4 linked regions of the Homo sapiens genome follow. The protein of the gene in region 3 purifies or fractionates together with the protein of the main gene of each other region. This does not show direct contact. Each region holds a gene or a part of one and is shown on either strand. Other genes may lie near its edges. The genes, in order: SCFD1, SEC31A, NSF and VTI1B.

Region 1 (7,633 bases), on a different chromosome or scaffold from region 3:
CTTTACTTCTGTTTCCTTTATTTTTTAACTTTAATAATGCTACTAAAAGACAATACCTAAAAGTAACTGTACTAACAAAGTGCTAACAATGTGAAAATATATAGTCCCATAGTCATGTCCCCATATTTATACTCCCACAGAAGAAAAAATTGGAAAACAAAGTCTGATGTCCTTAATCTATTAACATATTTAAATGATATAATGGTTCAGTTTTCCATGAAAGTAAATCATTATGGGAAGTAAAATGTTTTAACCATATTTTTCTTAATACACAAAGCAGGTGTCAGCTGTTGTATTCTCACCCTTCTTAAGAAAAATCATTACATTATTGATATTTTTTAAGTAACAGAATAGATTTGAAAGAGATAATATATCTCTTAATACCAAAGGAAAACTAAAACATAATTCTAGTGTACTTTTCTTTGTTCCCTCATGTCTTTTTCAATCTGTACACTAACATACCTAGCAAATTTGTTTTACTTTAACTTGAAATATTTAAGAACATTAAACAAGACATTTCTTTGGCTTTGGTTGAATTTTTTTGTCTCACCAATAGTAATTGAAAGATCAATTATCAAAGAGTTTGAATAGCTAATATAAACCCCAAAGTCACCATACAGTTTTTATTCCAAATATGTTGATAAAAAGATATTTGTTTCTTTATCCACCTTATTTTTATTACAGCTAAAAACCAATACAAACCAATAAAACCTAGTTAAAGCTATTTTCTGGTTTTTAGTTGCAATTAATTTCCCCTAGGGTAGAAATTAAAGCTGATTAAGTCACACACACATACTTTGTTGGGGTGGGGGTGGCAGGTGGAGAGGCAGTGTACTTGGGTTAGCTACAATTAAAAACAGTATTTCAATTCCTCATTTGACTTATTTTATATATAGACAGGGCCTTAGTGATAAGATGGTGTAAATAATTTAGGATATTCATGTTTTAAAGTGAAGCATAAATATTTATTTTGCAAAATGTTTTCTAGTTTGAAGGATGTTCCATTATTACCATTTTTAGATTAATCTGTATGGTCAAGGAATATCAGAGAAACCTGTAGGTTATTTATTTTCTGCAGTGTCATTTTGTCAAATGGTTGGTATTATAATTGTTCTTTTCTTATTAATTTTATAACCAGTGCATAATTCTTACATTAGATTTTAAAAAAGAATTATGCTATAAATCTTTATAAATGTGTACATATATTTCTTAAATATTGCAATTGCCTAAATGTTGTATATTTTAAGGCTGTTTTCTCTTGCTCTTAATGTTGAGGAAAACTATAAATTGATCTATAATGCATCTACTGTTAATGGTTTTGGTTAGTTTGATATTCATTGTTTTTAAACACTTTCCAATATGGAAACTTTAACACCTTTTATACAATTCTCTACTATTCAAGATATTCTTTAAAATATCTCACCAGAAACTTACAATTTTATACTTTGTAATTTTTAGTTTCTGTAATTTGAGGAAGTGACTTTTTTTGTTTGGGTTAAGTAAAAAGCCTTTGATTGATTACCAGCATGAGAATTCACCTTGGTTTCTATTTTATGCATTTGTAAATTTTTCCCCTAATTATATGGAAGCTATTGGAACTTTTGTATTCAGTGCTAAATACTAAGTCAAGGGGAGTATATTAGGTAAGTTTTTTCAGTGACTGTGCCTTTAGCATTCAGTCATTATAAGAAAATGATCAGAACAAAATCATTACATTATAAACATGTAATTCTTTTATATAGTGATTATCATGTACTGCATTGTTACTTTAAAATAAGCTATTAAACTAGTTTTTATGGTTCAAGTAATGCAATACAAAGTTTCATGCTTCAAGTAATGCAATACAAAACATAACCCATTTAATGATGAATTACTTGAATGTATATTATCTGTGGTTTAGGAAAATTTGGATTGTCTTGAAGAGACTCAGTTTTCAAGTTCTGATTTTGACCATTATCTCTTCTAATTCATAAACATATCCCAGTACCTACACTATGCCAGGTATTATGCTAGGTGATCGTTTATATGTCAGCCTATTTCCCCCCCTTTTAAAGACTGCCAGATTAACCAAAAAGCGTGACATTTATAACAATGTTTTATAAATAAATAAATGTGTTTATGCCACTAAAGGTAAACTGCCTATTTAAACTAAGTAATTTTTTGGGATTTAATAAGATTAAGATTCTGACGAAACTGAAAGATACAAGATTCCTTTACTCTCCACATTTGAGAGATCCTATAAGCAAGCAGTTAGTGTCTGACACCCAGGAACCTATAGAAATGAGGGAATCTGTGTTAAAACTATGTATCCTCTAATGTAAAATAGCTTACCAGAATAAATTATTTAAGCCAAAAATCTGGACTCAGATAAATGGCTATAGTAAATTAGGTTAATGAACAATCTGTAGCCATAGATTATTTTCAGTCTTTCTGATTCTAATAAAACAAATACCTTATTCAGTCTCAGCCTTACAAGGGCTATTTGTCTATGGTTGCTGTTCTTCTGTGAGGTGTATTTTTCTATAAATTTATTGCCCACATTCTGTGCACTTGGTCAGGAGTTTTTATCATTTCATATATATGCAGTGTACATCAATTTTAAAATTGTCTTCGTGGTTTTAACATGACTCATAGTCTTGGGAGAGAATCTGTGATGGAACTGAAGTGGCTCAATGATGGATTTGCATTTGAAAGTGGAAGTACCCAAATGAGCAAAATTGGGCTCTCAGACATTTTATATTTCATAGAGACTGTAGAATGCAGTAGAACTTTCCCATAGGGCAGAAATAATTTGTTTAGTTGGAACACACCTAGATCATTGAAGATTCCTTCAAAATATTAGTAATAGTACTGAAGACACACATGTATTCCAGTTAATTTCTTAATGAATGTGCCAATTAGCTATAAAAATGAGATTACATAATTTTTTTTTCTTTTTTGAGACAGAATCTCACTCAGTCACCCAGGCTGGAGTGCAGTGGCGCGATCTCTGCTCACTGCATCCTCCGCCTCCCAGGTTCAAGCAGTTCTTCCTGCCTCAGCCTCCCCAGTAGCTGGGATTAAAGGCGCCCACCACCACACCCGGCTAATTTTGTATTTTTAGTAGAGACCGGGTTTCACCATGTTGGCCAGGCTGGTCTCGAACTACTGACGTCAGGTGATCTGCCCACCTCTACCTCCCAAAGTGCTGGGATTACAGGCGTGAGCCACCGCACCCGGCAGAGATTATGTAATAAGATAACCTGTTTTAAATGTCACAAAAATAAATTTTTATTAATGAAAAAAGCCAGTGTTTCACACTATAAAACAATATATAATCGTTAGGCTAACCATTTCATTTATATAATTGTGAAAGTTAAGCTTTTGAGGTACAGAGTGATTTCATTTCAGAATTTGGTGCAACTTCATAATGAAGCGTCATCAATGAACTCGGGAAATGAGGTGTCATTGTGTATCCATTTTGGTCATACAGTAAAATCTATGGATTAAGTTAGAAATCATCTATCCCATATATTTTGCGGTCACGTGGCTTCAAGTGTACATTAAACCGCCAGCACAAGACCAGCCTGGCCAACATGGTGAATCCCCGTCTCTACAAAAAAAAAAAAAAAAAATTTAGCCGGGCGTGGTGACCCCTGCCTATAGTCCCAACTAGTGGGCAGTCTGAGGTGGAAGGATAGTTTGGGAGGATCGCTTGAGTCCGGGAGGTCGAGACTACAGTGAGCCGAGATTCTGCCACTGCACTCCAGCCTGAGCGACAGACAGTGAGATACTATCTCAAAAACAAAACAACAACAAAAACCAGCACATCAGCCTGGCCTGATGGTGTGCCCCTGTAGTCCCTAGCTACTTGGGAGACTGAAGCAGGAGGATCGTTTGACCGTCAGAATTTGAGGCTGCAGTGATCCCTGATTGCGCGCTCCAGCCTAGGCAACACACCCCACTACTGCTTGACTTCCTTCCCACGGCAAGGTGATTTTGCAATTACTACAAGGAAAGAGGAGAAATGCTAATTTCTCATTTTGTACCTCCCTGGATCCCGTGTCCATGCCGGCAGAACGCCACCATAAAGCTACACCTTTTTTTTTAAAGAGATGCGACTGAGAAATATGCCAGATCAGAGTAATGCTCCAATGCTTTCCGTTTCTCTGGAGAAAGGAGCAAAGGGAAGACTCCTGCTGCACTGAGAAACGAGAGCTAACGTTAAAATGTTGCCTGTGTTTCAGGAGCTTCATTTACTTCAGTCCTGTGGTCCTTATACTCCTAGAGCATTATCACCCTTTAAGTGCTCTGTAAGTCACCAAACCAACAGTTCAGTAATTAGGTTCTTAGCACTACACGCTCCTACCCTAACAGCTCAATTTAATGTTGCTACCATTTGAGAGAGTGTGGCTTGATTCGGTAGGATAAAAACTCTTAGTATTCGCCTAACATTACGGGCCACTGAATTAACCTGCACCGGGTCTCCCAGTTCTACCGAGAGTGGAGGTCTTCCTGGAGGAGGTGGGGTCCGGAACTCAGGCACACCCTTTGGCCCCGCCCTTCCGGGCTTTGCTTCCGGGGCGGTAAGGGCAGCCACGTCATCCCCCCGCTCCGCTCCCCAGCCGGGCAGTGGCTCGTGGGAGCCAAGATGGCGGCGGCGGCGGCAGCGACAGCAGCAGCAGCAGCCAGTATTCGGGAAAGGCAGACAGGTACTGACTTATTCTCTTCTCCTTGAAGCTTCGTGACTGCCCCGACGACATCCTTCTCCTCTGGTGCGTGCAGCTCAGAGACCGATCTCCAGGAGTTTAATCCAGTCCCTAGAACATCAAGAGCCCCTCCCCTTTGAGTTTTTGGGGAGAAGTTGCCATTAGCTTGAGGACTCGGTTCCTCCTGTGGTGCAGGAGAAGGAGCTTCAGCGGTGGGCGGATTGCTACGGCCCTGCTCTTGTCTCCTTCCTAGTGGGCATCAGAAGGCCATCACAACAAGATCTAGCAGCTGATAGCTTCTTATCTATGTTGCCACCTATGAGGTCTCCGAGTTTCTGTGCGTGGTTCAGTTCTCCTGGTTTTGATTTTTAAGAGAACTCCCATTTTCTGACACTCAGAGAATTTAGGTATTTTCACAGCGGCTTGCTTTGCGCCACTTCTCTACTTCGGACCAGTCTTTTGGGGGTACCTGCAGAAAAATGCCTGGTGATAAACATTTTCTCCTTCAGCTTGCTGGAAGGCATTGAAGAATGGCAAAACAAATGAATTAATAGCTTTCTCATTTTAATTGTTTGACACATTGTTTTAAAATAATATTTTATCTTCAATAGAGCATGTTTATATAGCTTCTATTTATGCAGAGAAATGTAAAAAGGCACATATTCTTCTCTTGAGTTTTGGGTTTTTTTCCGTCTTAGAAATTAGTTTTGCCTTACTTGAAAACTTCTCATGACAACTTGGTTTATACCTGTTAGCTACAAACTAAAGGTTTATACTTGTTAACTAGTTGTCTTAAAAGTTTTCAAGCAATTTATTCTGAGGAGCTAATAGAAATAAGGCATCAAGAATGTGCATACTTGGAATTCTGTTTCCTGAAATTATGCTCTGTTGGATATAAATATGAATAGGAAAATAAATTTATAATTCATATGACCTACAGAAGGGATTTGGGCTGTACTTGATTCCTTCCTTTGGCATTTAAAGAAAAAGTGATAGACTTCAATTTAGTAATGACACACAAAAGATACTGAGTTGCGTTCTGCTTTTCCCAGTAAATAATTTAGTATAACCTATCAGGTGAAGTCAGGCATAACTAAATATAGGGAAGTTCAAATAAGATTTGGGGCATACCTGCCATTCGTTGTATATGTTTAAACAAATGGAAGCTCCATTTGTTTTAATACTGTGTTTCTGATGACTATACTACATATTAAAATAACGTGTCAGTAAAACTGTACCAATACAAGAGAGCTTTTTGAAAAATAAATTTGCGTGGCCGTAAACTTGTATGCAGAAATTTTGTAGATCATTAAAATCTAATCGTTTGTATTTCTGCAGAAATAAACATAGTAAGATTTTACAGAATTACTAGGTAGTGCTAGATCTATTTTTTATCAAATTTTTACTGTCATTGAATTCTGCCTTATTTTCAGAGGAAGGTAAATCCTTGTATATATATTATAATGCAGAATTAGCTATTTCCCTCATGCCTATGGAGAATGTTTTGGGAGATAACTCACAGTCCTTAAATATTCTAGATACTAGAATATTTGGGTGGATGAGATAATAGTTGGCATTTATTGAGCATTTACTATTGTTAGGCATTGCATTAGGTGATTATGTATTATCTCCATTTTACAGGTGAGGAAAGTAAGATAGAGGTAAACTAACGTGCCTGTTTCTTGCTTTGCCTGCCTGAAAAATCTTTATTGGTCTCCTGAAAAATCTTTATTGATCTTTTGAAGGTCATCCCACAAGCCATCTCCTTTCTTCCTGGTTCACTGTCCCCTCTATCCATACCTTCAGTTCAATAGGTAGAATCAGTTGCCTCCTGCTCCGTGTTACTGTTGTTCTTCATTGAATGCGTCTTCGTTACAGGTTCTTGCACATCTTCCCAGCTTCTCAACATTGCAGGGTCCCATTAGTGTTCTCATCTAGCGCCTTAGCTTTCAGTATTATCTGTATGTTGATGATTCCCAGGTTTATATCCCTAGTCTGGCCGTCCCATCTGAACTCAGTCTACTCCATATCAGTTAATGGCAGTTCCGTCCTTTTAGTTGTTCAGGTCAAAAACCTTGAAGTTTTCTTGACTTGTCTCTTTCATGTCTCATGTAAGATCTTTCAGTAAATCTTGTCAGTTCTACTCTGAAAATACATCCAGGATCTGACTGTTGTCATTGCTATTCCGAGGTCCTGTCCACCATGAATTTCTGCAGTAACCTATTTGGTCTCTTTGCTTTTACAATCCTGTTCTCCTTCATTATTTTTCACACAGTACCCAAACTGATCATGCCATATGTTTGCTCAAAATCTTCCAGCATCTTCCCATTTCAACCATGATAAAAGCCAAAGTGATCTTACAGTGTTCTACAAGGCTTTATACGATCTGGTTTCCATGTAGCTTTTGGACCTCACTCCCTATTTCTCTTCCCTCTCCTTGAACCCACCAGGAATGCTCCCACCTTCGAGCCTTTGTATTTGTTTCTTCTTTGTGGAGTACTGTTTCAGAGATAATCTCCATGGCTCACTCCCTCACTTCCTTTAGGTCTTTACTCAAATGTTACCTTCTCAGGAGGCTTTCCCCAATTATTCTGTTTAAAATTACACCTCAACTCCATCTTCCCCTTTCCCAATCTTACCTTTCTTCAAAGCACTTACCATGATCTACATACCATATGTTTTACTTTTTTTTTATTTTATTTTTTTTATCCCCCAATTAGAATGAAAGCTACTTGAGGACAGGCGATTTTATTCACTGTTTTGTTCAGTTGCTAGATCCCCAATAACTACAGTGCCTGTGGTGAGCACTCATCAAACGTGTTGAATGAATGAATAGTGTGTATGTAAGTAATGACATTAACCAAGTCTAGGAATATGGATACAGGTTGAGTATCCCTTATCCAAAATGCTTGCGACCAGGAGTGTTTTTGATTTTGGAATATTTG
Region 2 (7,038 bases), on a different chromosome or scaffold from region 3:
TTTAAATATATACAGGCTTAAAAAATTATTTACACTACCCACTCTTATAAACATCCTCTCCTAGCCCTGTGCCAGAATCTCATTGCTATAGTAATTTAAGCATCTGCTCAATGGCATATGTGCAGCATTCATGAGCAAGAGAATGGAAAACATGCTTTTAACTTCTGTTTTGTATGGTTTCTCTGATCTTTTATTTTTGTGTGTATAGTTACCATAAATATATTTTCTATAGGAACATCTGCTCAGCAATTGGATGCAACATTTAGTACGAATGCTTCCCTTGAGATATTTGAATTAGACCTCTCTGATCCATCCTTGGATATGAAATCTTGTGCCACATTCTCCTCTTCTCACAGGTATGAGGTTCAGCTTTAAATTCATGTGATTATTTAATTATATATTGTTCTTGATTCCTAATTTGTCTATAATTATGCCATTATTAGAAACTACAAGGAATACCATCAAGAACATGAAATATTTTGTGAAAAAGCATGTGAGTGAATTTTTATGGAAGTAAAAGTAGTGTTTATGTGTTCTATTGACTTTTTTTTTTCTTTTTTTTTTTTGAGACAGAATCTTACTTCATAGCTCAGGCTGGAGTGCAGTGGCACGATCTCGGCTCACTGCAACCTCCACCTTCCAGGCTCAAGCAATTCTTGTGCCTCAGCCTCCCGAGTAGCTGGGATTACAGGTGCACACCACCTTGCCCAGCTAATTTTGTGTCTTTAGTAGCGACAGGGTTTTGCCATGTTGGCCAGGCTGGTTTTGAACTCTTGACCTCAAGCAATCCACCCACCTTAGCCTCCCAAAGTGCTGAGATTATAGGCATGAGGAATCACGCTTGGCCAGTATGTTCTGTTGGCTTTTTTATTGCTGTTACATGTAAGGTAGGAAGGAGAGGCTGTAGTTTCTAGCATTTTTTTCTGTTTTTTTGGTGTGTGTGTGGTTTTTTTTGTTTTTGTTTTTTTTTTGAGATGGAGTTTCACTCTTGTTGCCCAGGCTGGAGTGCAATGGCGCAATCTCGGCTCACCACAACCTCTGCCTCCTAGGTTCTAGCAATTCTCCTGCCTCAGCCTCCCGAGTAGCTGGGATTACAGGCATGTGCCACCATGCCTGGCTAATTTTGTATAGAGTTCTTTTTTCTATCTCCTTTATTGTGCCTGTTTACAAAAAGGTAGATGTGACTAGAAAAGGAGTAGTCATCGTAAGTATTAATAGTGATTATCTCTGAATGGTAGCTTATTTTTATTTTCTTCTGTTACGATATTTAGAAATATATCTCACAGTTTTGTTGACACGATTTCTAATACACTAGGTAACTAGGTATTTGGATCATACTTTCAAGTACTTATGCCCTATTGTAATGCAGAGAAAGGAGGTCTTCATTTCAGTAATAAAATAAGCTTTATTGCCTCAATATATTAGCAGGGTTTAAAGAGATTGCTCTTTAGCTGACAGAATATAGCTCAAATCATGCAGTTTCATGGGACCGCTCATATTCTTCAGAGCTGTCACAGTGGGATGGGAACCCCAGATACCTTTTGTCTAGTAGTTTTTCTGCTTACTACCATCTGTATCATCGTATACCTTTCTGCCTTCATATTTCATCTCCATTCTGGACCATATATTTTATTCTCTAATAGTAGGGGTACTTGTTATAATCTTGATGTCATTTTTCTACCATTAGAATACATTCTTTTTCTTAGAAAATTTCACATGACTCCTTTAACACCTTTACTATTTAACAGACCACTTGTTAGTGACCCCCCCTTTTTTTTTTTTTCAGACAAAGGTCAAAGCATGAGACCCTTCTATAGTCAAATAAAGAGTGTTTTTACCTTTCGAGGGAAGTGATTGATTAGCTCTATTTTACAATGAACCAGAGGCAATTTAAGAAGATTAAGTAACTTAGGGTCTCACAGTTTCTAAATGGTAAAATCATTCTTAAGCTCATATTTTTTGACACACAACTCAAGTATATTTTGTTACACTACCTTACAAGAGTTTTTACTCTTTAAGGATTACAAAATCACATATGCAAATATGAGTATAAATAAAAAATGAAATACTATTACACCAAAGTCATACATAGTTACCAGGAGTGGTGGGAAAGTAATATATTTGGATTGTTTATGAAAACATTAAAAATTAAGTGTATAATTTCAATTTTTTGTCTACATTTATTTGACTTTAAGAATGAATGATTTTATTCATTTTCTCCTGTAGGTACCACAAGTTGATTTGGGGGCCTTATAAAATGGATTCCAAAGGAGATGTCTCTGGAGTTCTGATTGCAGGTGGTGAAAATGGAAATATTATTCTCTATGATCCTTCTAAAATTATAGCTGGAGACAAGGAAGTTGTGATTGCCCAGAATGACAAGCATACTGGCCCAGTGAGAGCCTTGGATGTGAACATTTTCCAGGTTAAGACTTTAACATTTCATAATTCTTAGACTATGTGCTGCTCATTTGAAATCAGTATATGAATCTACTATGCCTCAGTTTTGGAATTGAAAGTTAAAAAACTGTGGCTATACAGGTTGACGAGTGTTTGTTTAAAGAATGGTGGGTTCAGAGTTGAGATCAGGGTTAAAAATACTACCTCCATGAAAAGGATCCGGCTGATAGGTTTTTGTTTTTGTTTTTGTTTTTGTTTTTTTGAGACGGAGTCTCGCTCTGTCACCAGGCTGGAGTGCAGTGGCATGATCTTGGCTCACTGCAACCTCTGCCTCCTGGGTTCAAGTGATTCTCCTGCCTCAGCCTCCCGAGTAGCTGGGATTACAGGCGCCTGCCACCACGCCCAGCTAATTTTTGTACTTTTAGTAGAGATGGGGTTTCACCATGTTGGCCAGAATGGTCTCGATCTCTTGACCTTGTGATCCGCCCGCCTCGGCCTCCCAAAGTGCTGGGATTACAGACGTGAGCCACTGTGCCCAGCTGGCTAATAGGTTTAAGTCTGAAGATGTCACGCCATTTGATTAGACATTTTATAAACATTAAGATCCCTATAGGTTGGAAACCTTGCCTTTTAAAAGTTCATGCTAGGTCAGCATTAGGCTGGTGCTGTGATGTCCAGGTTAATTCACTGTTTTATTAATTGAGAAATTTTATGTTTATGACAGAGATTAATACTCTATGAAATAATTAGAAATTAAATGTAATGGCTGGGCATGTGGCTCACACCTGTGTAATCCCAGCACTTTGAGAGGCCGAGGCAGACAGATCATGAGGTCAGGAGTTCGAGACCAGCCTGGCCAACGTGGTGAAACCCCGTCTCTACTAAAAATACAAAAATTAGCCGGGCATGGTGGCAGGCACCTGTAATCCCAGCTATTCGGGAGTCTGAGGCAGGAGAATCGCTTGAACCCGGGAGGCGGAGATCGCAGTGAGTTGAGATCGTGCCATTGCACTCCAGCCTGGGCAACGAGCAAAACTCAAAAAAAGAAAAAAGAAATGTAATGCAGATTTAACAAATAGTCAATTAAGATTCTTTGTACTGTTGCCTTCATAAACATTTCTGGTTGTTAATTATATAAATGCACAGCTTAATAACGATCTTAGCCTGAACAGGATGGTGAAACCCTGTCATTACAAAAAATGCAAACAATTAGCAGAACATGGTGGCACACGCCTGTAGTCTCAGCTACACGGGAGGCTGAGGTAGGTTGATGGCTTTAGCCTGGGAGGTCTACGCTGCAGTGAGCTATGATCACACCACTGCACTGCAACCTGGGTGACACATAGAGACCCTGTCTGGAAAAAAAAAAAAGACCTTGAGTTAATAGGATACTAGATTATAACAACCAAAAATGAGTATTAAGAAAATTTTAAATAGTTCCTTTTCTTATATTATAAATAGATACTTAGGGTATAGCAATACAGAAACCCAACTTGTTTATTTCTTTTTTGTTGTTGTTTTTTGTTTTTTGAAACAGCGTCTTGCTCCCTCTGCCAGGCTGGACTGCAGTGGCTCATGACTCACTGCAGTCTTGACCTCCTGGGCTCAAGCAAGTCTTCTGTCTCAGCCACCTGAGTAGCTGGGACTACAGGCATGAGCCACAACACCTGGCTAATTTTTGTAGAGACAGGGTTTTTTCGTGTTGGTCAAGCTGGTCCCAAACTCCTGGGCTCAAGTGGTCTGTCTGCCTCAGCCTCCCAAAGTGCTGTGACTACAGGCATGAGCCACTGTGCCCAGCCTTCGTTTCTATAGTTTGTGGTATCTGCTCTTTAGCTAACTCCTTTGTTAATTGTATTGAACAGCTGATGATTTTTAATAAAGTATTTTGTGTTATAGGTAGCTACTACCATAGAATGTCTCCCTTTTTTTAGTTATATGCCAACTGATAGAGAATAATTTGTAAGAGTAAATAGTAGTGGATGAAGGTCAGTATATGAAGCCCATTATCTTCCTGTACTTTATATTACAATTTCAGGTTCTTTTTGACCCTTAAGGTATGTACCAGAGAAAACCTAGAAATATTGCCACCTGGAATAAGATTGAGTGTATATGAACTAGAAATATGTGAAGAGTTATGACAAGAGATTTTACTAGTGCTGTATTGATTCAGCTCTGGAAGCTGGCTTTGAGGTATCCTGAGAAAGATGCCACAGTTTTAGGATTCAGCTTTTTCTGAAAGCAATAATTGATGACCTTTTTAATCTTATAATTAAATCTCCTTCCAGAGATGCAAAGATACAAACAGTAATCCTCACATGGTTGCATGACTGATTAAGAATTTATCCAGCCAGGTTTGGTGGCTCACGCCTGTAATCCCAGCACTTTGGGAGGCCGAGGCAGGTGGATCACCTGAGGTCAGGAGTTTGAGACCAGCCTGACCAACATGGAGAAACCCCGTCTCTACTAAAAATACAGAATTAGCCGGGAGTGGTGGTGCATGCCTGTAATCCTAGCTACTCGGGAGGCTGAGGCAGGAGAATCACTTGGACCCGGGAGGCGGAAGTTGTGGTGAGCTGAGATTGCACCATTGCACTCCAGCCTGGGCAACAAGAGCAAAACTCCATCTCAAAAAAAAAAAAAAAAAAAAGAATTTATCCATATAATTTTTAAAATAATATCTTGCATTAAAATTAATTTGTTCTCAGTAGACATCTTTTGTCTTTGTTAAGTAGAATTTTATGTTTTTCTAGAAAACTTTAAATTTTGAAAGAATTATGCATAATTTAGAAATTCATGCATATGTTTTTCACTTTTCAAATTAAATAGAAAAATTGTGTATGCTACATCTAATATCTTTCTAGCTCTGAACTGAGTTATTCTGAATTTTCTTAATTATTCATAAGTGCTATTTAGTTATGGTTTCTTCTTGCAGACTAATCTGGTAGCTTCTGGTGCTAATGAATCTGAAATCTACATATGGGATCTAAATAATTTTGCAACCCCAATGACACCAGGAGCCAAAACACAGGTATTTTTATATTGATTTTGATCATTGTAATCAAAAAAGCCAAAAGTAGTTCTCCTAAACCTACTTATTTCACTTTTAAGGCTTCTCACACAAAACATATATGTTTAAAATCATTGTTTAGATATTACTGATTTTTCTTCAGTAATTAATAAATATGTTTCTTCAAAGTATCAGTGAGTCCATCAAGAGTAAATATTTATTTAGTACCTACCACCTGGTAGACACTGGTCATTGTACTAGGCATACAGTAGTAAACAAAATGAACAAAAATCCTTAATAATTGTCTTAGATATAGTATAATTATTTTTGTTCTTTGTGTGATAGTTGCTCTGTGTTTTGGCAACAACCAACCTTCTTAAAACACACTTAGACAAGACCATGGAAGACAAGGTTTAAAATAAATACCTCAAGCCCTTTGCTTGTGTATTTCTATTAAGTTTGGTAACAACAGTCTTCTCCTGTTCTTCCCTGAGTTTCTTTATGTTGTATAGGCTATCCAACTTGAGTAGCCATTGTAACTGGCTCTAACATTTTGGCAATCTGAGAGGTAGCATAATGACAGCATATGCACTACCATTTATAAAGGTATTTTGCTAATGGTCTAGGCTGTAATTTTGCCCTGCCTAGTTTTCTGTCATAGTCACCAACATCTACTTTGTGGTCCATAATCTACCTTGCAGCAGTTGCAAAGTAAAGAAACAGTACTTGGTTTATAGCAGAAATTCAATAAAATTCTTGTTGAATGAGATATTATGAAACAAGATAATACACTTGAAGTGGTATGTACCTGCATTTTAAGTCATATAATTTTATGTGTTGAGAATGTAGAGATGTAGGACTATAAAGCAAATTTGTGGCATAAATGGATCAGATTTTTAAGTAATACACTTTTCAAAATGAAGGATCCAATTTTACAGTTAAATTTGATTATAATAGAGAAACAAGCAGTTTTTATTAACTGTTTCTTCCTTGTAGCCGCCAGAAGATATCAGCTGCATTGCATGGAACAGACAAGTTCAGCATATTTTAGCATCAGCCAGTCCCAGTGGCCGGGCCACTGTATGGGATCTTAGAAAAAATGAGCCAATCATCAAAGTCAGTGACCATAGTAACAGAGTAAGTATGTGATTGACTTGTGATGAACATGTTGTATTTCTGCTGTAGGTATTCCTATATTGTTTGTCAGAGTTGACAACAAATCAAATTTCTGTGAAGTCAAATCCTGTTTTTTTATTAATCAGTCATGTTAGAAGGAATGTTTTGTTTTTTTTCCTCTAAGGGAAAATCATAAAATTCCCAATAAATATGTTGGATATTATTAATGATGAAGAGAGATTGGTTAATCAAGGAACTTATTCCATGATATACTGGTGGTTTTGCTTTGCTAGCTGTTTTAAAACATTGCAGCAACTTTTTTTTTTTTTTTCTTGAGACGGAGTCTCGCTTTGTCGCCCAGGCTGGAGTACAGTGGCGTGATCTCGGCTCACTGCAACCTCTGCCTCCTGGGTTCAAGCACTTCTCCTGCCCCAGCCTTCCGAGTAGCTGAGATTACAGGCATGCACCATCAAGCCCGGCTAATTTTTGTATTTTTGGTAGAGATGGGGTTTCAC
Region 3 (3,334 bases):
GCTGAGTGCAAGTGGCGTGATCCTGGCTCACTGCAACCTCTGCCTCCCAGGTTCAAGCAATTCTCCTGCCTCAGCCTCCTGAGTAGCTGGGATTATAGGCATGTGCCACCACACCCGGCTGTTTTTTGCATTTTTAGTAGAGACAGGGTTTCACCATGTTGGCCAGGCTGGTTTTGAACTACTGACCTCAAGTGATCCACCCACCTCAGCCTCCCTCTCGGATTACAGGCATGAGCCACCGTGCCAGGCATTTTTTTTTTTTAGTAAGATAAAATAAGTATAAAGCATAAAGATGGTTGTATATTAACTTTTTCTGATACTCTAATGATGTTTTTAAATAACTATACTTTCTAAATAAGAGATTTTTAAAATAAAAATCATCCCTCATGTTATGCTACTTGTAACAAAACACGGAGAGGTTTCTTTCCTGAGCCCCCTCCTTCTTCCTCCATTCCTATCAGCTGTTCATGTCGTTCTATATGAAACACTGGTCTACAGAACATTTTCAAGTATATTTACTCTTTATTGCATTCCTTCATTTGCATTAAACAATATTTTTTCAATACAGTTTTGGACAAAACACAAAGACATTAAGCTCATTTAACAAGAGACATAAGTTAACACAATGTGTGCTGCTTTCATGAGGAGGAAAGAGGCAAGATCTTAGAGGAATCCAGGATACTGGCCACCAGGAATCACAGGATCTCACAATACAATCCACTTCTTTAAAAGCCACAAAATAAGCTAGGGAAGAAAACCCAAAACAAAGAAGATATGACATCCAAGTCTCCACCAAAAGTATACAAATGGCAAGATTTGGAGATGATCTGCTTTCTCACATGAGGACAAATAACAGAGGAGCCACACCCAAGTGCCACTGTGGCCACAAGCCTCATGGGTGGCGTGTGAGGTAAGCACCTTAGGATGGCTTCTAATTGCTTGTCCTTGCATTTTAAGCAGCAGTTGGGAGAGAGAGGCACACTCCATAAGTCTCATCACCAAATATGACCTAATTAAATTCCTGCTAAGTCAGTCAGTTGTAAGACAAATCACCCTCAAAAGGACTCAACGGGTGCTTCCTTTTGGAAGAAGTGTGTGGAGGGTAAAGGAAATGTGTTCAATGTATTGGAATGGACAATAAAGGACTGAGGGAGAGGGCTAGAAAATGATTGATTTTTCTGGAGAATAGTGTTTTAGACACTAGATAGTACAGATCATTTAAAATAAAGGATAAATTCTAAGTAAGTCATTAAGCTAAGGAAAAAGCAGTGATACTAGTAAGCCTTAATATTATACTAAGGAATTGACCCACTTGGAGTTGGACACTAATTAGTGCTGAGAGGTTTGTAAATTACTTTAATAACTCCTTTCTGTTTGGGGGTGTATGCTTTTTCCATACCTATCTTTCACATGTTTTTAACAACATCTTCTAAGTGGTAATAATGAGCATATCTCTTACCACAGAGCAAATTAGTTATACTTAAGGGGAAGTCACAACCAACACGGTAGTCATCTGACTTTCTATTAAGAAAGATCTTCTGACTGCAACTTGAAAACATCTCTGACAATGATTGAGAACAGCATTTTAGAGATTCAATGCCTTGTTTCTTCAGGCAAAGAGAATACCAGTCTTGTGGGAGACCTTTAACCAAATACCCAGTGACTTTTAGTGTTAGCTCAGGACAGCTGTCAGAGGATCTCTGGCCCACACCTCGATTTACTAAGCCAGATTTGCATGTAGAAAGTCTGCCTTCTAATCGGCCAACTGTTGTCATGCAACATTCATGACACTGACTGAGAGTTTTCAAGGGTGATGGTGCTAGTAGAGAGGTTGAAACGTGTAGTGTCCACAAGTACTGGATGGTTCCCACCCAGAGGGACTGAGCAAGAAGGAATCACTTTAGCCTGCATGGGAAGGTAAGCGCAGCATTCTAAACCAAATTGACACCTTCCACGAGACACTAAGCTATCTCAGTATGCATAAGGAAGGGAGTTTTATTGCACTAATCATGCAGAGCGAGCACATGTTGAAGGTAGAGAACGTTCCACTTAGTCCAGTATCTTGAGTAAGACAGTGAAGATCCTAGGCCATCTTCACCTTGGTCACTTCCCTTGGTCACTGTGTGTTTCAAATAGTTCATTTTCAATCAAAATCAAGGGGGCTACTGCAAAAGAAATACCAAAACACAAAAAAACAGATGAGGGTCCGTAAAAAACTATTCATCAAAAAAAAAAAAAAAAAAATCACTAAAAGCTTCTTAATGGTTATCCTACATTTCCCACTATGCATTTGCTATTAGATGAGCACTTCACAAAAGAAAATGGTCACAGCTCCATGCATGTAAAAGCAGGTTCCAATAAATATGTACCATTAAGTTTTTCCTGCATTGTGACAAGGAAGTTTTGCGAAGCAGGACAGGGAGAGCAAACCAACAGTACAACCAACTTCCTTGCTTGGTCTCTCGGACCTACAACACAGCGAAGAATTCAAATAAATGGAAACAAACTTATCTAGGAAAGCAACTCTTAGAATAGGCACAGGGATTTAACAGGGTGGTAAGTTTGGTTGATGGTCATTAAATGTTGTATGTACTTACGCTCCTTCTTCTCTTAAGAGGGCCAAGAATTTTCTCACACGGTATTCAGGATCCATCTAAATACATCAGAAGAAATGAAGATGGGTTAATGGTACCTTCTAACAACTCTGCACTTGCTTCATGAGAAGGCAGTGTTCGGTTTCACACTTCATCAATGCTCTGCTAGGTCACTGAATGTGTTACCTGCTCCTTGACCAGCATTCTCACACAAAACAAAGCAGATCACATCATTTGGAGGAAGTGAATGGGGTTTTCCAGAACTATGTACACTGGGTTCCAAAAGACCCAAGCCCGCTGGCCATCATAGGCACTTGGGCCAGGCGTGCCCTGTGCTGATGCCTGTGAGGCATCGCTGTGAGACTGGACAGGGCCATTCATCAGAGTTCAAATGACAACCAATTCACCTGTTGAAGGTGTAAAAGGCTACTAAAGTCACAGCAAAGTAGAAGATACCAAGTTGAGGTTAATTCAACAACTAAAAAATAGCTTATTAACTCTACATAACCAACCATGTAGCTTTTCTTAGCCTCAGTATCCGTCATATAGTTTCTTCTTTGTAGTAACAAAGTTGTGCTAAAACTAAAAAAATGAAGAGTACTGCTGATTCCTGAAATCATCTCCAGATGAATCTGGGTCTCCTGTGACTGCGAATGTGTCATGAGTCTAAGAAAAGATGGCGCAACTTTGTTTCAGGTGCTTCGTTCAGGTCGTTATTATTAGCTATCTCGACTGGTTTT
Region 4 (7,038 bases), on a different chromosome or scaffold from region 3:
TAGTTACATTCACCTTTGTTGTCTACCCAGCCTTTTTCTCCATCCTGCAAAGAGGACAATCAGAAATATGTGAATTTCTTTTCTTTTTTCTTTCTTTTTTTTGTTTTTTTGAGATAGAGTCTTGCTCTGTCGCCCAGGCTGGAGTGCAGTGGTACAATCTCAGCTCACTGCAACCTCCACCTCCTGGGTTCAAGTGATTCTCATGCCTCAGCCTTCCGAGTAGCTGGGATTACAGGCGCATGCTACCACACCTAGCCAATTTTTGTATTTTTAGTAGACACGGGGTTTCACCATGTTGGCCAGGCTGGTCTCAAACTCCTGACCTCAAGTGATCTGCCCGCCACGGCCTCCCAAAGTGCTAGGATTACAGGTGTGAGCCACTGCGCCCAACCACAAAATACTCTAAGTTGCTGGTAACAGACATAGTTGTTTAATGGATAAGTAAAGAAAATATATACATATCCCTAGAATTATAATAAGTCCAACAACTTTACCTCTTATTCACTACCTCATTCACACTGCTCAATAAATGTTTGTTGAATAAATTGAATTTATCTAAGCAAACACATGGTGCCTCATCTCTGAATCCTCTTTTTCTAGTTCAGAGACCACATCATAAAGTTTTCAGAGCTTTAATGCCCATCATGAATTATTAGGCACAGCATAATGTACATAATACAGTCCTTGCATGTAGCTTATGCTCTGTAATTGAATTCAGTCATTTTTCAATAAACACTGAGAATTATTATGTATCAGCCACTGTCTAGGCTCTGAGGACTTCCAGAGTTCTTACCTTAAAAAGAAACAAACGGCCGGGCACGGTGGCTCATGCTGGTAGTCCCATCACTTTGGGAGGCCTAGGCGGGCGGATCACAAGGTCACGGATGGAGACCATCCTGGTCAACATGGTGAAACCCCATCTCTACTCAAAATACAAAAATTAGCTGGGTGTGGTGGCATGTGCCTGTAGTCCCAGCTACTCAGGAGGCTGAGGCAGGAGAATCGATTAAACCCAGGGGGCAGAGATTGCAGGCGACAGAGCGAGACTCTATCTCAGAAAAAAAAAAAGGTAACAAACCTTACAACCAAGTGTGTGATTAATCCTAAAATAAAGTTCTCTGAGACCATAAAAAGGGCTGGACTTGAGCATGGGGAAGAGGGGGAAGCTTCAAAAAACTTCAAACTGAATATAAGGGATTGAATGGGAGTTTGCTAGATGGGAAATGCGAAGAGGCAACACAGGAGTAAAACATGGAATACTCCCAACTCTGGAGCTTAGAATGTATGTGGGAAAGTAGTAGTAGAGGGGCAGGTGAAACAGCCAGATTGTGAGGGGATCTCAGTGTCACATTGAGACATTTGGACTTGATATGGAAAGTCAGTAAAGGACGTAAAGCAGTTGATTGATGTGGATTTTCTTTTAGAAGGAGGGCATTAATGGCTAGACAGGACAAGAGAGAGCACAAGAATCTGGGTACAGGGGACTGTGTTAAGAGCCTTTTGGGCAGTCACCTTGCTAACGGGAATTTGTTTGACACAGGTTCTCACTCCTGTCTCCCGTCATCCAGGCTGGAGTGCAGTGGCACCATCACTGCTCACTGCAGCCTTGGCTTCCCGGGCTCAGGTGATCCTCCCACCTCAGCCTCCCGAGTAGCTGGGACCACAGGTGCATGGCACCAGGCCTGGCTAATTTTTTGTATTTTTAGTAAGGGTCTCCCATGTTATCCAGGCTGTTCTCGAATTCCTGGGCTTAAGTGATCCACCCACCTCAGCCTCTTAAAGTGCTGGGGTTACAGGGGTGAGCTACAGTTCCCGGCCCAAGAGTTGGTTTTGAGGCAGAAATTAACCAGCCTCAATGGATATGAGGAGTGAGGGAGAAAGGTTCCAGGGTGTCTGCATTTTTTCACTTGGTCAACTGGGTGAATGATGAACTTAAGTAAGAAACATAAGAGGAGAAGCAGAGTTTGGGTTGTGGATGAGAATATCAAAGGTACCTGTAGAACAGAGATCATGACATAATATAGCCTTACAAAATGTTTCTTCTTCTGCCATTAAAAATAACATACGGGGGCCAGGTGTGGTGGCTCGTGCCTGTAATCCCAACATTTTGGGAGGCTGAGGCAGGAGGATTGCATGAGGCCAAGAGTTGGAGACCAGCCTTGGCAACATGGTGAGACCTATCTCTACAAAAAAAAAAAAGCTGAGTAGTGTGGTGCTGCTCACTTGTAATCCCAGCTGCTCAGGAGGCTGAGGCAGGAGGATCACTTGAGTCTAGCAGTTTGAAGTTTTAGTGAGCTGTCATCACATCATTGCACTCCAACCTGGGTGACAGAGCAAGACTCCGTCTCAAAAAAAAAAAAAAAAATTATGAAGAAGTATGTGAATTGAGAGGCCATATAGTATAATATTTAACAGCAAGAATTCAAGAGCCAGATTGCCTGAGTTTAAATTCACCTTCTAGTAGCAGTGTGACCTTGGACAGGTTACTTTAACCCAATTAGTTTTTCCTGCCAAATGGGGATAAATCATAGTATCTACTTCACAGGGTTTTTGTGAGGAGTAAATGAGTTAATATATGTAAAGTCCTTAGAATACTGCCTGATAATAGAGCTACTAGCCATTTTATTTAAATGAAAATTAAGAATACCAGCCCTGTATACAACTATTCTTACCTTTTTTTTTCCAGAGTACTTATTTTCTGACATATTAGACACTTTCCACATTTATGATATTTACAGTATATTGTTTGTCTTCCTTTCACTAGGACAGTGGTTTCATTGTGGTCCATGAACCAGCTGCATCAGCATCATTTGGGAACTTGTTAGAAATGCAAATTCTCAGGCCCCACCCCAGACCTATTGAATCAGAAAGTTTTAACAAGCAGTGTGTTTTCACAGCCCTCCAGGGGGTTTCTGATGAAGGCTAAGTGTGAAAGCCACTGAGCTAGAATATAAGCTCAATGTTGTCTTTTTTTCACTGTGTTTCCTAAGTACCAGAACAGTGCCTAGCACAGACTAGGTGCTTCATAGATACCTATTGGATGATGGAATGTGTGAATTGTTGGAAAGAAAATATTGATATATGATTGTGATTTATTTCTATTCTGTTGTCCACATTTTCATTACTTTAAAAATGGGTATATTCCACCTATTAAAACAACAAAAACTGTATTTCTCCAAAGTACAGTCTCCATTCACTTTCTGCCTTTGAATGATACTAGAGACAATGTGTCCTGTTTTAGGAAGTTTTTGTGTAACTGTCCATTACCACTTACAATAATTATTAATCCATTTAATATTTCATTAAATACCTATGGCCATAATTTCTACTCTTGGTTTTACAACCTCTGAAGAGGTCTCTCCAATTACCTCAGAGTACTATAATGTGCTATAATTTCTTAATCTAATCAATGTTAAATGCCTGTGGTCATGATTTCTAGTTTTGGTTTTGTCATACCTGAAGACATCTCTCCATATGTCTTAACGTGTATCATAAAAATATTGAAAGTTTTCCATTTTAAATCATTTAGATCAGTATGTATAACACAAGACCCTATTATTTTCAGAGCCAGAAAAAATAGTCACTATGGAGTACTATAATCAGCTGGCCGATAAACACCAATTACTTACAGACTGTAGAATTTTAACTATTCTAACTCCTCATTTTTTTTGTTTGTTTGTTTTTTGTTTTTTGAGATGGAGTGTTGCTCTTTCACCCAGGCTGGAGTGCAGTGGCGCGATCTCGGCTCACTGCAACTTCTGCCTTCCGGGTTCACGCCATTCTTCTGCCTCAGCCTCCCGAGTAGCTGGGACTACAGGCGCCCACCACCACGCCGGGCTAAGTTTTTGTATTTTTAGTAGAGACAGGGTTTCACTGTGTCACCCAGGATGGTCTCGATCTCCTGACCTCGTGATCCGCCCGCCTCGGCCTCCCAAAGTGCAGGGATTACAGGCGTGAGCCACCGCGCCTGGCCTCTAACTCCTCATATTTTCTACTGAATTTGGTTTTTGCTCTTAGGTTCTTCCTAAGTATTTACTTTCAGAAACAATGGTGGTTTCTATTTATTGAGCCCTTATTATATTTGGCACTTGCTAAGTGAATGTTATGTGTATTATTTCTTTTAACCCTTTCAAACAACCCTTACAAGGTCAGTAGTCTTATAGTCCCTATTTGCAGATGAGGAAACAGGTTGGTTGAGAGGGATCTCTGTTGCTTTTAACTCTTGTATGGTGTGGGATCTAGTCAGCTGTCACGGTGTACAAATAAAGGGTGTAAGTCCTCCATTTTGCCACAGTGAGGCACCAAAAGCAAAGTAACCACATATTTATGAGCTGGTGAAACTGAAGTTGTTTCCACAACTTTAAAGGGCCAAGATTAGGCATTCTTGGGCTGGAAATTCAAATCCCCATAAGGAAGAGAGGCTGCCCACCTTGGTCAAACATTAAGGTAGGCTTTCTGTAGTGCTGTTTTTCAGAGCTGTCTGTTTCCATTTTACTCCATGTCAGCATCCACCCAGTTTCCCAAAGGAGACAGAGTTGGTCCCAGAGAGTCCCTCACATGTGACTGATTTGGGCAGGCTTGTGGGGTGGGGGATAGTGGTATTTGAAGTGGTTCATTCTTGTTCATGGTGCCCATTCTCCCCAGGATGCCACCTTGCTGTTTGTAGTTGATTGTAGCATCAATTCTAACTCCCTAAAAAGAGGAAGAGGTTTTTTGTTTTTTCAACAGATTTTACCAGTTGTTAAAGGCTATACTCTGGGAGCACAAAAATGCCCCTCAGTTGTATACAGTATACAGTTGTTTAATATACAGAAAAGCCTTGGACTGGGAGTCAGCACACTTGCATTCCAGAACTAGTGCTGCCATACATTTGCTGTTCCAATGACTGTGGGGCAGGCACTCAGTTTCTCCAGGGTCTAGTGTCCTCAGTGGTAAAGGCAGGAAGTTAGACTAGATGATCGCTGAGGTACATCCTAGCTCTAGCATTCATTGGTTTCATAATTCTGAGCCTAAAGAATTTTTAAAAAGCTGCTATTGATCCCTCTCAGTTGGGTAGAGATCAGTCTCTTGAATTATCTGCCTCCCTGGCTTTATCATCACAAGAAATGATTTCAAAGGTTTCTGTTTTGTTTTGTTTTAAATCTTAGAAGTCCAGAAAGGATCTCATAAATGTAGTGAAGTTCTGTAAAAGTATGTTGTTATAGAGCACTTATAAGAGGAAATGTGTTTTATGAAATCAGGTAGGAAATGGAATATTCTAGCACACAGAAGTTAGTGAAAGGAGAGAGGTTCTGTGGTCTTCTTCTCCCCCTTTCATTTATGTAGTTACATTCCTGGAATCATTCTAGAATTTGCCTCTTGAGAATGCGGATTTTCATACCCATTAACAAAGGAAGAATAAAGGAGGAGAATTTATGACTAAACACAGTTGTAGAAAAGTCTAGGAAAGGAAGGAGCTAGGAAGGGAATGTACATATGTGTACAGTACTGCTTCTTACTGTCTGGCTTGGATCAGGAGTGAGCATGCCTGAGTTTGGAGATGTGCTGACTCAGAGCAGTGATGATGCTCAGCACTTTTGGGACAGCTTATTACAAAATAATACAATACTGCTCCATGGAAGTAGCCGTTTTTGACTGTCGGTATTATTTCAGTACTGGTAGCTAAGAACACATCCCCCTCAGGAACAGTAATAGCTGCCTTGGTGCTCATTTCAGTTACATCATAGATGGTCAAGAGTCATACCATTTGCCATGGTGAACCTTCCTCTACCTTTTTTTAAACAACAAACAGCCATGGGTTTTGTGAGTGGTATGGAGAAAATTGTCTGAAGTATCTTGTGTATATTAAGGGGGTGGCACACAACAATGAATGAGACATAGTAAAGGGTGTGTTGTCATTTGCCCTTTCAGGCAGTAGCCACATCTAAGGAGGTTTATAGTTCTAGGATCTATGGCACAGTAAAAATGACAAAATAAATTTCCATGTTTCAGAGGAACTTGGTCTCAAGTTGAGATTATAGAATATACGCATCCAAAATGATTTATGGTCACTTAAAAAGTGGGATACAAGGACAGGTGTGGTGGCTCACACCTGTAGTCCCAACACTTTGGTAGGCTGAGGTCGAGGATTGCCTGAGCCCAGGAGTCAAGACCAGCTTAGGCAACATAGTGAGGCCCCATCTCTACCAAAAAAAAAATTAGCTGTGTGTGGTAACCTGCACCTGTAGTCTCAGTTACTTGGGAGGATGAGGCAGGAGAATTGCTTGAGCAGGTGGGAGGATTGCTTCAGCCTGGGAGGTCGAGGCTGCAGTGAGCCGTAATCATGCCACTTCACTCCAGCCTGAGTGAGACTGTCTCAAAAAAAAAAAAAAAAAAAGATATAACTGACATTAGATGCTGTTGTGATTAACAAAATGTAAATCCATATAAAGCATTACAGTGACATTACATCTTATGTAGGATTGGGTTCAAAAGTCAGGGCTTGGCCGGGTGCACTAGCTCACACCTGTTATCCCAGCACTTTGGGAGGCCGAGATGGGTGGACCACACAAGGCCAGCCTGGCCAACATGGTTAAACCCCCTCTCTACCAAAAAATAGAAAAATTATCTGGTTGTGGTGGTGCACTCCTGTAACCCCACCACTCAGGAGGCTGAGGCATGAGAATCACTTGAACCCAGGAGTTGGAGTTTGCAGTGAGCTGAGATGACGCCACGGCACTCCAGCCTGGGCAACAGAGTGAGACACAGTCTCAAAAAAAGCCAGGTCTTAAGATGAAAATCAGAGTAGACAAATCATCTAAGAAAATCTCAGGACAGCAACTGAATACCCACATGCCATTTCTCCATAAGCCCGGCTCATCTGTTCTCTTTTGCAGCGGAAAGGCTGAGGTGGATGGATCACTTGAGGTCAGGAGTTTGAGACCAGACTGGCCAACATGGCAAAACCCTGTCTTTATTAAAAATGTAAAAAAATTAGCCGGGCATGGTGGTGGGTGCCTGTAACCCCAGCTGCTCGGGAGGCTGAGGCAAGAGAATCGC

What was found.
Region 1: the proteins of NSF (region 3) and SCFD1 purify together in Homo sapiens (affinity purification with mass spectrometry; 3 studies listed by BioGRID and IntAct, with this or other methods). This does not show direct contact.
Region 2: the proteins of NSF (region 3) and SEC31A fractionate together in Homo sapiens (co-fractionation; 2 studies listed by BioGRID). This does not show direct contact.
Region 4: the proteins of NSF (region 3) and VTI1B purify together in Homo sapiens (affinity purification with mass spectrometry; 2 studies listed by BioGRID and IntAct, with this or other methods). This does not show direct contact.

What each region holds. Positions count from the first base shown.
Region 1 is NC_000014.9:30,617,709-30,625,341, forward strand, and holds the start of SCFD1 (sec1 family domain-containing protein 1), read left to right. Parts: upstream 1-4,610; 5' UTR 4,611-4,630; coding exon 4,631-4,691; exon of another isoform or gene 4,692-4,754; intron 4,755-7,633. UniProt on the Homo sapiens protein: Plays a role in SNARE-pin assembly and Golgi-to-ER retrograde transport via its interaction with COG4. Involved in vesicular transport between the endoplasmic reticulum and the Golgi.
Region 2 is NC_000004.12:82,874,117-82,881,154, reverse strand, and holds part of SEC31A (protein transport protein Sec31A), read left to right. Parts: intron 1-232; coding exon 233-356; intron 357-2,226; coding exon 2,227-2,425; intron 2,426-5,332; coding exon 5,333-5,428; intron 5,429-6,403; coding exon 6,404-6,544; intron 6,545-7,038. UniProt on the Homo sapiens protein: Component of the coat protein complex II (COPII) which promotes the formation of transport vesicles from the endoplasmic reticulum (ER).
Region 3 is NC_000017.11:46,754,633-46,757,966, reverse strand, and holds the end of NSF (vesicle-fusing ATPase), read right to left. Parts: intron 2,654-3,334; coding exon 2,598-2,653; exon of another isoform or gene 2,594-2,597; intron 2,166-2,593; coding exon 2,144-2,165; 3' UTR 503-2,143; downstream 1-502.
Region 4 is NC_000014.9:67,664,598-67,671,635, reverse strand, and holds part of VTI1B (vesicle transport through interaction with t-SNAREs homolog 1B), read left to right. Parts: intron 1-7,038. UniProt on the Homo sapiens protein: V-SNARE that mediates vesicle transport pathways through interactions with t-SNAREs on the target membrane. These interactions are proposed to mediate aspects of the specificity of vesicle trafficking and to promote fusion of the lipid bilayers.